Linked DNA regions of Homo sapiens: region 1 is linked to region 2. A link means that fine-mapping ties the variant in region 2 to the expression of a gene that starts in the linked region. Tissue or cell type: esophagus muscle. Region 2 holds a variant in brackets; the other region holds the start of a gene. All regions are shown on one strand. Distances are between the middles of the regions.

Region 1 (6,527 bases), 22 kb after region 2:
CAGCCATGCCCTTAGTTTTTATCTAGACCAGTTTTCCTAGCAGTAACTTGGATTTCATTTTTGCTTGGAAGCCCTTTCTTGTTTTTGGCATTGTTTGCCACCTACAGAGGCTAAGAATTTTCAAAATCCTAATGTCCTCTTTGTTAACAGTTATTCCCTCAATTTATATCTCTTCTTTTGCATGTTTCTGTAAGCAGCAAGAAAACAACAGCAACAGGACATTCAGCACATTCCTTGAAAATCTTAGCTACGTCACCCAGTTCTTCTTCCTGCATTAGCTGCAAATAACAGGCTGCTAAACTTTCTGCCATTACATAACAAGGACCCTCTTTCCTCCAGTTTTTAATGGAGTATTTCTCACTATCCTTTTAGCCTTCACCAGCACTTAAGACCCAAAATTTCTGGACAGTCCCTTTTCTATACAAGTATTGGACAAACTCCAAGCATCCCAACAAAGGCTTTAGCATTACCTGTCTCAGTGAGACAAGAGTTGGAGATTGAGTTCAACACAGTGAACTGCCTACTAAAAACAAAATTCAGACGGACTTTTTGTCTGTAGAGACAACAGAGTCTCTACAGTGTGTTACTCATAGAGTAAGAATTATTAGATATGTGAAAACATAAGCCACATTCAAGAGAAGAAAGCAATACAAATCCTTAAACACTGGTATTAGCAAACAAGAATGATAAAGCCCCTATTATAATTATTCTGAATGACATAAAGGAAAATGCTATTAATGGATGAGCAGATGGGAATTTCAGCAAATGAGTAAATCAGTTTGAAAATGGGAATTCTAAAACTAAGAAATACAATGTTTGAAAGTAAAAATCCACTGGATAGGTTTAACAGGAAATTTGAGGTGGCAGAATAGTTAATGAAGTTGAATATAGATAGAAATTATTTAATCTGAAACAAAAAGGATTGAAAGAAATTAAAAGGACTGAATAGTGCTGGTGATAATGTCAAAAGGTGACTTGTGATAATGCTTTGTGTTCTCTGATCTTCCTAGATCTGTGGTTTGGTGTTTGTTTTCTTGCTTTTAGAGACAAGGTCTTGCTTTGTTGCCCAGGAGGGAGTGCAGTGGCAGGATAATGGCTTGCTCAAGCAATCCTCCCACCTCAGCTTCTCGAGTAGTTGGGACTACAATTACACAGCACCACACCCGGCTAATTTTTGTATTTTTTTAAAGATGGGGTCTCACTATGTTGCCCAGGCTGGTCTCAATCTCCTGGGCTCAAGCAATCCTCCCACTTTGGCCCCCCAAAGTGCTGGTATGTATCACAGGCATGAGCCACCACACTGGCCTGGTGTCCTGTCATTAATTTTAGAAAATTCTCAGTCATTATTCAAATATTTTCTCTCCTTTCTCTCTTCCCCTCCTGGTATTCCAGTTACGCATATATTTCACCTTCTGTAATTGTCCCATGGTTCTTGGATATTCTGTTCTTTTTCTTTTTTCATTCTTTTTTTTTCCTCTTTGTATTTCAGTTTGGGAAATTTCTATTAACATATCTTCAAGCTCACCCATTCATTTCTCAGAGTGTCTTAGTCTGAGGGGCTCACTAAAGGTAATCTTCATGTCTGTTACAATGGTTTTCAATTGCTAGGATTTCCTTTTGATTCCTTCTTACAGTTTGCATCTCTCTGCTTACATTACCCATCTGTTCTTGCATGTTGTCTACTTTTTCCAAGATGCTTCTCCTTCTGTGGGCTTCCCTAAGAACTCCTTCTTAAATAGAGTCTGTGCCTTGCAGTTTTCTCTGTTGTAATCTACTGTTATTGACCAGAGCCCCATTAGTGTGGCAGTGAGGTACAGTGGGGAGGGAAGCATTCTATAATCTTATTATTAAATACTATTTTTCTAGTGGGCTTGAGGCCTTGGACTGTGATCTTCAGAAGCACTTCTTAGCCTTTCAAAAATCCTGCCTTACTGAGACAGACAGGCTATAGAGGGACTGGAGCTGGCCAATTGCCTCTCCCCAAGGTCCAACAAGACTCTAGTAAGTAGTTTTTCTTGGAGTGCAGGTGTTTATTATGGAAAATGTGGTGCTTACTTTTCTCCTCCCCTTGCCCAAAAACCTGAGATTTTTCCCCATTCTTCACTGAGAGAATTTGATAGGGTTTCTGGAGGTAAAATTCACGAAAGTGTGGGGGCCCATCTAAGATTGGGCCCCTAGGAGTTTTTAACTCACAAGTTAGCCCACACTAAGCCTCCAGCAATTCATCAAAATTATAAAAAATAAAAGTTTTTACCAGTTTATAACTCCAGTGGCTTCTGCTTCAAGTAAGCTAATCTTGGCTGTAATTTTATGTATTTTTCTTTCTCGGGATTTTGGGGTGTCAGTTACCTTTCTATCTTCAGTTCTCTGATGGATCTAAGAAAAGTTGATTTTCAGTTTGTTGAATGATTTTGTTGTTGTGAAGATGGGAATGAAGGCTTCCGAGCTCTTTATATGCCAGAGCTAAAATGAGAATATTATCATTTTCATCCAACTCAAATAACCACAAACGTTACAAGCTCTAAGATGATATTTGCTGTTTCATAGTTAAAGTATCTTCACAGCTAGACTTGGCTTTATTATGTTGTTTATGATGTCTGACATAAATTGGATCCAGGAGAGTCCAGTCTAGATGTCACTGTGTGGCCTTGGGTGATTGAGTGTGACTGGGAGGGTGAGTTAGTTTCTGGTGAGCCAGTATCTATGATGCTGTATCTTGGTCAGCTGGGGCTGCTATAACAAAATATCATAGACTAAGTGACTTGACTAAGAGACTTTATTTTTCACAATTCTGGAGGCTGGGAAGTTAAAGTGCTGGCACATTCAGTTCTTGGTGAGGGCCCCGTTGGCTTGCAAATGGGTTACATCCTGCTGTGTCCTCACATGGCCTTTGCTTGGTGGTTGTGTAAACATGGAGACCCCTCCTTCCTCTTTTTTAATAAGTGCACTGACCCCATCATAAGGGTATCACCCTTATGACCTAATCTAAAACCAGTTACCTCCCCAAAGTCCCACCTCCTAACGTCATCACACTAGGGGTTAGGGTTTCACCATAGTAATTTTGGGAGGACATATTCAGCCTATAACATGTTGTGTCATGGTGAGACTGGCAATGCTAGATTTCGTGATTTCCTAAAAAATAAAATAAAAATAAAAAACTAAGCACCTACTATGTGCTGTTTTAGTCACTGAGAATATAACCCTGAACAGGACGGAAGCTGTGTGCCTTCTTGGAACCCTCCTTCCAGCAGGGAGAGATAAAATGGGGTGGGGGGAGGTGAGGGGCGTACCGTATATCAGAGAGCAGTAACTAGTAGGCATGAAATAAAACAGGTTCCACACGCGCACCATCAGAAAGTCACAAGTGTGCAAAGCAGACAAATCCCAATCTCCTCACTTTTCTATCGCGTAGGCCCCGCCCGCGCCCCAAGCCCCGCCCTGTCATGGTTTTCCTCTCCAGAGGGTAGCCGCTACGCCTTACCGACTGCGTTTCAGTGCTGTCCCACTGCTCCTGCACACCCCACGCCTGCGACCCTACCCACCACGGACAGGCGCTCCTGCGAGCTGGAAGCCAGTTCTCTGCGTCCTGAGCCTGGCAGCTGCATCTGAACACTCGGAGCCTGGCGATGGCTTCCAGAAACCCCTGCGCCGTGGGTCGCTTCAGTGAAGGGGCCTGTACTTCGGCGACCCAGACTCCGGGCTGAGAGGCCTCCTAATCCAACCAGGAGGACCAGGAGAGGCCCAAAAGGGGACACAGGGCAGTGACCGCCAGGCTTGGAGAGGAGCCGCTCCTGGCAAAGCCAGCGCCCTATTTCTGAACGCCGCCTCCGTTCCGGACTACACTTCCCAGGGGCTATTGCAGCGGAGGACACGCCCACTTCCGGAAAGGACCCAAAGCCGGGCGAGTGCACGTCCCGCCGGTTGCTGAGGAGAAGGGAGGTCTGGGCGGGGCAGCGGCCGAGGCTGGACTGGGGCGCGGCGGGGGCGGTGTCCTGGTTCCTGTGTGGGCGGCGGGCGTGAGCGTGCGCGTGTGGCCTGGTGGCTGTGAGTGCCCATACGTGGTGAGCGTGCGGTGCTGTGCTGAGGAGGGGCGAGCGCGCGCGGGGATGGCGGCCCGGTGTGTGACTGTCCGGTGCGTGGCCGCGAATCTGCGCCTGCGTGCATGGCCCGGCGGCGTGCGGAAGGCGGTGTGTGTTGGAATGAGTGAAGCACTTTAAGTGGCCAAGAGCAGGAAACCCGGCCGGAGGAGGCTTACCCCGTTCTCCCCTGTATCGACTGCGTAGAGCCCAGTGTGGGCAAAGTCCTAGAGCCCGGGGAAGTTGCCCGGGCGGGGCAGCCTCGGCTGAAGCATTTCCTGTCAGCCCTATCTGGAAGGGGCAGAGCCCAGGACAGGGCTCCATGTCCACAGGACGGCGAGGAGCGAAGACCATGGGGACTGAGTACACAGGTAAGAGTGACAGATGACGGATGTGGCTGCCGGAGTGGACATTGAGGTTTTGGGTGCTGTCTTTCGGGGTTCAGGTGCTGGAGGAGGATGTCCCCCGTTTCTAAGGCTAGTGGACCTGGAAGTCGAAAGATTTGGAGGGTCACCTTGGGTCAGAGTGGAGCTGGGTTTAGTTAGGGAGGGACCTTGACTTGGCCAGAGACACCTAACCAGATAACCTGACTCAGGTCCTTGGTATATCACTAAGGGCCCATGGGAGAGAACACTACCCGTAATATTACCCATTATAGCATTACTTCTGGGTACTCTGCTGCTGTTGAAGGAATAGCTCAGCATTTAGATTTTTACCCGTCAGAGCCTTGTCCCATCTATCACTGTAGGATTTGGGAAGAAGGCGAGATTCACAGCTTCACCCAGAAATGCCGAGGCATTCCAGCCTTTCTATGGCTTAATCACGTTCTAGTCAATAACGGAAGATATCCCCATTCCTTGGGCTTCTCTCCCTCCCCTCTGGCCTCCCACTCCAATAAAGAGAAAGGGGGAGGAAGGGCTATTTTTAGCCATATTGTTCTGTGCTTGTTTAGTTTCCTGCATGCTATAGTAATAGCTAATGTTTAATGAGTGTTTATTATGTGCCAGACACAGTTCTAAGACCTTTTGGGAGTATCAGCACCAAACTTCACAACATTATGAAGTAGGAACTACTTACCTCTTTTTTACAGATGAAGACACAGAAGCATAGAGAGGATAAGTAATCACTAGCAAGTGGAAGAACCGGGATTCAGATCCAGAACAGGCTGACTCCAGAGTCACTGGCTGTCATGTAGTTTCCTCAACTACTGCCTCAGGTAGGTTTCTTAGCCACTTTTGACAATTAAAGAAACTGACTCTGAAAGGGTTAAATAACTAAATAGTTCATATGCCAGAACCTCCACTGAGCAGGTTTGGGGTTTTTTTCTTAAAAAGTTTATGACTCTAAGTTCTTAGGTAAAATGGAGATGGTAATATTATATACCTCACAGTACTGTCATAAGGATTAAATGACCTCATACATGTAAAGCACTTGGTATAGTCCCTGCCATGTAATGTGTTCATTTTTATCATCATTATGATAATCCTTTGAGAAGGCAGTGGAATTTAGATGAAAGAAACTAGAATTAATTCAGATACTTTATCCTCTTCCTTCCTAATTAAGGAAACATGGCTCAGTGGAGTCAAGGGACTGCTTCAACACTGTAGTTTGTCACAAAACAAAATGAGATCCTAGGCCTCATGAGGATTTTTTCATTTGGTTGTCTGCAAGTCACATGGACTCTGTTGTAACGAAAGGAATGCCTCTCTCTGGAAAAGATGGAATTCTCCATGGAATTTGTCTTATAGAATGTTCACAAATCCTGGCCAACTGCACAGAGGACTTATTTTCTGTTATTTTCTGGTATATGAGCAAATAACTTCTGTGATAGAGTCAGCCAGACCTAGGTTGGTGACTAGGTTATTTACAAATTTGTGTGACTTGTGGAAAAGACTTGACTTCCCAGAGCTTTCTTGTGTAAAATGGTGACAATATACCCGATTCTGTTTGAAGATTTTGGAGATTTAAAGACAGTATTAATATATGCAGCACAGACATGGTGGCTCATGCTTGTAATCCCAGCACTGTGGGAAGCCAAGGCAGGAGGATTGCTTGAGGCCAGGAGGTTGACCAGATACCTAACTCCAGGAGGTTGACACCTCCTGGCCTCAAGCAATATAGTGAGCAATTGGGCAATATAGTGAGACCCCCATCTCTATCAAAAGTAAAAAAACTAGCTGGGCATGGTGGCACATGCCTGTAATCTTAGCTACTTAGGAGGCCTAAGCAGGAGGATCCCTTGAGCCCAGAGTTTGAAGATACAGTGAGCTATGATCACGTCACTGTACTCCAACCTGGGCAACAGAGTGAGTCCCTGTCTTAGAAAAAAAAAATGTACACACACACAGGCTAGTATTAATAAATCTGTTGTTAATGAATTGGTGGCTGATGGGGAGAGGGGGTCAAGAGATATTATGCTCATCCTGAAAACCCAGAGCAGAGGGGAACCCC
Region 2 (6,527 bases):
AAATCCCACGTATACCAAAATTTGCACTTATTCATCAGCCATGTGGAGCCTGCAGATATGAGAAGTCAGCCCTCAGTGGACACAGGTTTTCCATACCACAAATAATCTTTTTTGAGACAAGGTCTCACTCTGTCACCCAGGCTGGAGTGCAGTGGTGCCATCACGGCTCACTGCAGCCTTGACCTCCCCAGGCTCAAGCAGTGCTCCCATCTCAGCCTCCGAAGTAGCTGGAATTACAGGCATGTGCCACCATGCCCAGCTAATTTTTGTATTTTTTGTAGAGATGGGGTTTTGCCATGTTTCCCAGGCTGGTCTCGAACTCCTGGCCTCAGGCAACCGCCCGCCTTGGGCTACCAAATTGCTGCGATTAGAGGTGTGATTCCCCGCGCCCAGACAATAATTGTATTTTCAGTCTGCATTTGGTTGAAAAAATTTGCATATAGGTGGACCCTTGCAGCCCAGATCCATGTTGTTCGAAGGTCAAATGTATTTTACTTAATTTATCTCAGTTTCTCTTGTCTCATTTCCTTACTTCATAGGCAAGGATTTGGGGCAGTTTTGCCTAATGTCTGATACAGAAAATATTTGGTGGATGAATGTTTGAATATAGTCTTAAAGTTCTCTTGTGGCCAGTGTTTTGATATTTAGTATAGTGTTAGAATAGTCATTTTTATACCTGAAAATGTGCTTCGTCCCTGATTTTTTTATTTTGTTTTTTTGCTTTTAGAGACAGGGTCTCACTCTGTCACCTAGGCTGGAGTACAGTGGCACAGTCATAGATAATTGCAGCCTCAAACTCCGGGCCTCAAGCAATCCTCCCACCTTGGCTTCCAAAGGAGCTGGAATTGTAGGTGTGAGCCACCATGCCCAGCCCCTGATTATTTTGTATGAATACATTCCTAGAAGTTTTTCTTGCCTCATGGATTAAGGTTTCCTAAGCTTATGTGAAATCGGAATACTTCTAAAATTATTTTTGGATAGAACAGCAGTGGTGCCTCAAAAGCTAGAATTCATGTTTTGAAAAAAATGTACACTTCATCAGGAATAATAGTTATTACCAAATAAATGTTTATTTGTATGTTTTAAAAATTAACTGAATTGAATTTAAACAAATCTTTTTAGTGTATTTTTTCTATAAAGTACTTCATATTCATTCTTTTCTATGAAATTTCAACAGAAAGATTTTTCTGTAAGTATAAAGTTGCTTTTATTTTTTGTTGGTATTCTTTTAATGTCTCTATCTTTGTGTGTGTGCGTGTGTTTATATATTATATAGAATATATTATATATGTATATTTTATATATATATTAATATATGTATATTATATATATATGTATATATAATTTTTTTAAGAGATGGGAGTCTCACTGTTTTGCCCAGACTGGAGTATATTGGCTATTTTCAGGCACAGTTATGGTGTACTACAGCCTCAAACTCCTGGGCTCAAGGAATTCTCCTGCCTCAGCCTTCTGAGTGGCTGGGCCTATAGGCGTGTGCCACCATACCCAGTTCATATGTATATTAAGATGAGTTAACTTACATCAGATGCCTATATCAGGAGTAGATTCTGTGCCTGTATAATGTTTTCTCTGTGGTATAGTGTAAAAATGTGAAACCCATTTTGAAGTCTGCATATTTATGTTGCAGCAACAGGAATAAGAACAGGACCTGCACATTTGACAATGTTTTGTCTCCACCTAAATTAAGTAGGTTGATCCAGACATCAGTTAGGGAAAGTTCATTTTATTTTTATCTGAAAACATGTTTTCTACTGGAACTTGTTTCACTGTCAGGGTGAATGGATACTAAGTATTACTGCTATTATCAAAGTGGAACCTTTTAATAGAAGTAGAATGGCAAAGTGGTCAAAGGTCATGGACTAGGTTCACATGCTAGCCCTAGCATCTAATCATTGCGTAACCTTCAGGCAACTCAAGTGACCACATTTTCTTCATCTGTAAAATGAGGAAAATAATTGGACCTGCCTCAAGCAGTTCTTGTAAGGATTAAGTTAAGATGTGTATAGTGCCTGGATTGAGGTACCTGGCACATAGTAAGGACTTACTAGTGTTAGCTGGCAGCATCCTCATGTCATCATGACGGTTTTAGAAATTTACAGGCAAGACACTTAGATGGCGTACTTCAAAAAAAGTGTTTAATATAGGACCGAACTGGGCAAATTATGGCCTATAGGCCAAATCCAGCCCACCACCACCTCCTTTTGTGTGGCCCACCAGCTACAAATGAGTTCTACATTTTTCAGTGGTTGAAAAAAATCAAAAGAAGAAGAATACATGAAAATTAAATGAAAGTCACATTTTGGTGTCCATAAAAAAAATTTCATTGTAGCACAACATACTTGTTTGTTTATGTATTATCTATGACTGCTTTTGTGCTACAGTGGCAAAATTGAAGAGTTGCGGCCAAGGCTATTTGGCCCACAAAGCCTAAAATATTTACTTTCTGGCTCTTTACAGAAAAACTTTGCTGACACCTGAAGTGGAGGTTAAGAGCATGGACTGTGGAGTCAGACTCCTGGGTTCAAAACCCAGCTCTACAGCTGACTGTCTGTGATCCTGGGCACATTACAGCTCAATATTTTCTCATCTGTAAAATGGGAATAGTAATAGTACTGACTATTAGGATCGTTGTGAGGATTAAATAAGCTAATATATAAGTATATAGAATTGCGTCTGAAGTGTTGTAAGTGCTTTCAGCTATTGTTATTGCTGTTATTTACAGTAAAAGACATTTTTAAAACAAAAGTCATTGATTCTATACATAAAGAGCTGTCCGAATAAACAGAAAATGTCTTAGGAGGATATATGTATATTGCTAACGTTGGGTCCCTCTACGTGATTACATTGAAGGCATTTAA[CA/C]AACCACTGGTACAAAAGCAGATCACTAATGCATAGCATGATCAACCTGGGAAACTAGGGTTGATTCTTCTTGGCAAGCAAATAAGTTCCTCTTCTTTTATGCCAAGATGCTTCAACTTGCAAAATTATTGCTGAGAGCTGACCAGCATTTGTTTTAGACTAGCTTCCTCAGGTAGCCATATTAGTGTGTCTTTTGCTCAAGGACATTAAGCAGTTCTTGGCTGTTTCCTGCAAGTATTACCTCATGGTTTACACTGCAGGGGGCCTTTCAGTCCCCAGCTTAGGAGACTTCTCCATGATGAGTTTACCATCAAGAGTGTAGCTCTGCAGTTGACTGATTCAACTCCCTCTGCAGTTGATATTCACTCAAATTGGGATATCACTTACAAAACCCTTTTGACCTATTTTTACACAATTCAGTTACAAATGTCCTTAAAGTTTGGTAGCAGGTTAAAGAACAAGTGATTGTATATTATTCAGCAGATATCAAACCTCAAAGGGACTTTTGTTTCTAGTAGAATAATGTGAATCTTTAAAAGGTTCAGCTCTTGGTTGGTGTTGTGGTTTGTTAAGTGAGGTATTTAAATTAGGTTTTGTGTAGTCAGATGCAGCATGGTGAGGGACACTTAGAGCAGAATGGCAAAAAGATTGTTTATTACTCACAGATTCCAGAGAACAGTGGCCAGCACACCTTGCAGGGCTTACTGGAAGGGCTTGGAGACATTGAGGACACACATGCCCAGCCAAAGGGTGGGGACCAAGAGAGAGGGAGGGACCTGTGGGCTGGAGCCTTTATTGGGGTTCAGGGCATTATCTAGGTGAGTTTCCCAAGACAGGGTTGGCTTGGATACTTTGAAGGGAGCTCAAGGCTCAGTAAGGGAACTTGAAGGCTACATTATCAGGTTCACCAGGCTTCATGCAGAAGGACAGTAGTCATTTCATAGTATGGGGCCTTTTCTATCTAGAACACACAAATGGGGACTGGGTGAGGACTGCCTGAAAATATATAGGTCAAGGGTGACAAGCAGAGGCAGCATCCCTATGGATGAGAGTTATGACAGTCAGCATCATTACAAGTCATGTTCACTGCATGCTTCCATTGTGCCTTGCACGTTCTAAGTGCTGTGTATGTGTTGCCTCATTTAATCCAAAACATAATCTACAAGGTTGGTATTGTTGCCTTTTCCATTTTATAGCTGGGGAACTGAGGCACAGAGGCGTTAGGTAACCAAGTGAGGTTTCAGAGCTGGTGAGTGCTGGAATTGTAATTCAGCTTTTGGGGTAGTCCAACTGTTTCGCATGTTCATTTCAGTTTAGACTTTGAAAATCCCACAGCTGCTAGTCAGTTAAATCTGCCTTCTGTTAGCCACAGGTTCCTGGGATTAGAGTTGCAACTGAATAGATGTTTAAAATACATTGGAACGTATCAGAGTTGTAGGCTGAATTTGTAAAACTATGCTCCATAAAAATCTGCCAGCAGGAGCTGAGCAGCCCCATCTTGCCAGTTGGTCAAGAAAATCCTGCTCATGCCAAGCTGTTAGCAAATGTGCTCCTGATAGCTCCTCATAATGCCTAGCTTCTCCAAGATGGCACCTTGGTTCGTAAAGGCATTTCATTAATTAAAAACATTATAGTGCTTTTTGTTTTTCATTCTTATTACATATTCATTTTAGAAAAAAAAATTGCTAGATTTTTTTTTAATGACCTCTACTGAACACTGAGAGTAAAAATAGAAATTCTTAGAACCCAGTTTAGTCATGAATAATATTGATGCTTTGAGGTTCATCTCAAGTTTATTGCCCAGTTCTTGTGCTGCTTCAGGCCACTCACATGTCCCCATGTTGGACAGTGCTGTAGTACCTGTTGTGCATAGAACAAGTTAGTCTTTGTTATTTATAGTTTTGAATTGATGTCAGGGGTTTTTCTTGTGGCTGCCTCCTTTCACCTCCACAAAACTGCAAGTTCTCCAAAGTCAGGGGCTGTCTCCATATTTTTCTCTTTTACCTGGAGTTTAAGACAGAATGAGGCTAGCTGTACAATACCTAACTAGATCTCCACAGTTCTGAGTTTATAGTCTCTTACTCAAAATGAAGACAAGGAATCTTTAGATCCCTATATTAGTTTGTTAGGGCTGCCAGAACAAATACCACAGAATGGGTGTCTTAAACAACAGAAATTTCTTTTCTCAAGCTTCTGGAGGCTGGAAGTCCAAGATCAAGGTGCCTGCAGGTTTGGTTTCACCTGAGGCCTCTCTCCTTGGCTTGCAGACGGCCGTCTTCTCTCTGTGTCCTCACGTGGTCTTTTCCCTGTGCCTGCACACCGTGGTATCTCTTCCTGTTTTAATAAGGACACCAGACAGATTGGGTTAGGGCCCCACCCATATGACCTCATTTAACCCTAATTACCTCTTTGTAGGCCCTGTCTCTAAATACAGTCACATTCAAAAGTACTGGGGATTAGGAGTTTAATGTAGGAGTTTTGTCAGGGGACACATTTCTTTCTATAACAAACCCCCAGTCATGTGGGGGCATGAGCACTGGTTGAGCAAGAACATGGTTATATCATTTCAGGGCTTGGTGACATTTGGGGATGTGGCTGTAGATTTCTCCCAAGAGGAGTGGGAGTGGCTGAACCCCATTCAGAGGAACTTGTACAGGAAGGTGATGTTGGAGAACTACAGGAACCTGGCATCGCTGGGTAAGGGCTCCCACCCCTTTTCCCACCCCTCACCCTACCCACGTCCTGGACTAAGAAGCCTTTCATGCCTTTATCACCCAGACCTGCACTGCCCTCTTGCGTCAAGCCAAGGGGACTGCATCTCAGTCTGGACAGCCACACAGTATGACCAGGTTGTTTTTTATGTGTCTAGGACTTTGTGTTTCTAAGCCCGATGTGATCTCCTCGTTGGAACAAGGAAAAGAGCCTTGGACAGTGAAGCGAAAGATGACAAGAGCCTGGTGCCCAGGTGAGTGTGGGAGAACCAGGTAGGGTGAGGCCACTGCTGGTCATAGTTCAGCTGACTCAGACACGCAACATCTTCAGCAGACTCTTCCTAAGCCTCTTGCTTAGGAATATCTGTTATTTTTACTATTTGGGAATACAGAAATTTCAACTACAGTATTATTTCCAGAACAGCAAATTATTAAGACAAGGAATTAGAATTATAGATTTCTTTCAGAGGTTTTATCCTAACAGGAAATGGTTACAGTTTCTAAAGCATTGGGAATCTTACAAGGTTTCTTTGTTCAATTCACACTTCAAAGGAAACGCTTGCATTGACAACAGGACAAGTTACTGACAGTTATAAATTAAAGTGACTCACATGGGTCATCATATAGCATAAGAGAACAAGAATGTGTGAAAGTTTCCAATTTAACATCATATGAAATCACATACTTTGAGCTAGTTTAATGAGATAGAACTGTTTTTTCTTCCTGCAGATCATTCATCTCTTCTTGAGACTAGTTAATTGTGAAGACTTACATTTTTAAGGCCAGGATCTGGACTTTTATTAGTTAGCATCGTAATAAAAAAAAAGGAGGTATGTAGAGATAGAGATGAAATTTTTTCTAGATGAAATGGACAAGGAGTGAAAAAGAGTTGACTTAAAGCTGAAATAAGGATCATATGGCAGTTTTCTTCTATAG

The links. PIP is the estimated chance that this variant, and not a neighbour inherited with it, causes the effect.
Region 1: ZNF470 starts here. The variant in region 2 is fine-mapped to the expression of ZNF470 in esophagus muscle (GTEx, PIP above 0.99).

What each region holds. Positions count from the first base shown.
Region 1 is chr19:56,563,592-56,570,118 of GRCh38, forward strand. It overlaps ZNF470 (zinc finger protein 470), which reads left to right and starts at 3,877. Exons shown (of 6, transcript NM_001001668.4): 1 at 3,877-4,447; 2 at 5,167-5,292. ZNF470-DT (ZNF470 divergent transcript) reads right to left here and starts at 4,430. Exons shown (of 2, transcript XM_047439806.1): 1 at 3,482-4,430. The coding sequence starts at 4,430. The coding sequence ends at 3,492. RefSeq lists enhancers at 3,557-3,606, 3,617-3,826, 4,207-4,316.
Region 2 is chr19:56,542,058-56,548,584 of GRCh38, forward strand. ZFP28 (ZFP28 zinc finger protein) reads left to right here. Exons shown (of 8, transcript NM_020828.2): 3 at 5,451-5,577; 4 at 5,750-5,845. ZNF470-DT (ZNF470 divergent transcript) reads right to left here. Exons shown (of 2, transcript XM_047439806.1): 2 at 3,518-5,214. Among named protein-coding and RNA genes, the nearest start is that of ZFP28, 6.4 kb to the left of the region's middle. RefSeq lists an enhancer at 5,227-6,426. The variant CA/C (reference allele first, on the strand shown) is at 2,880.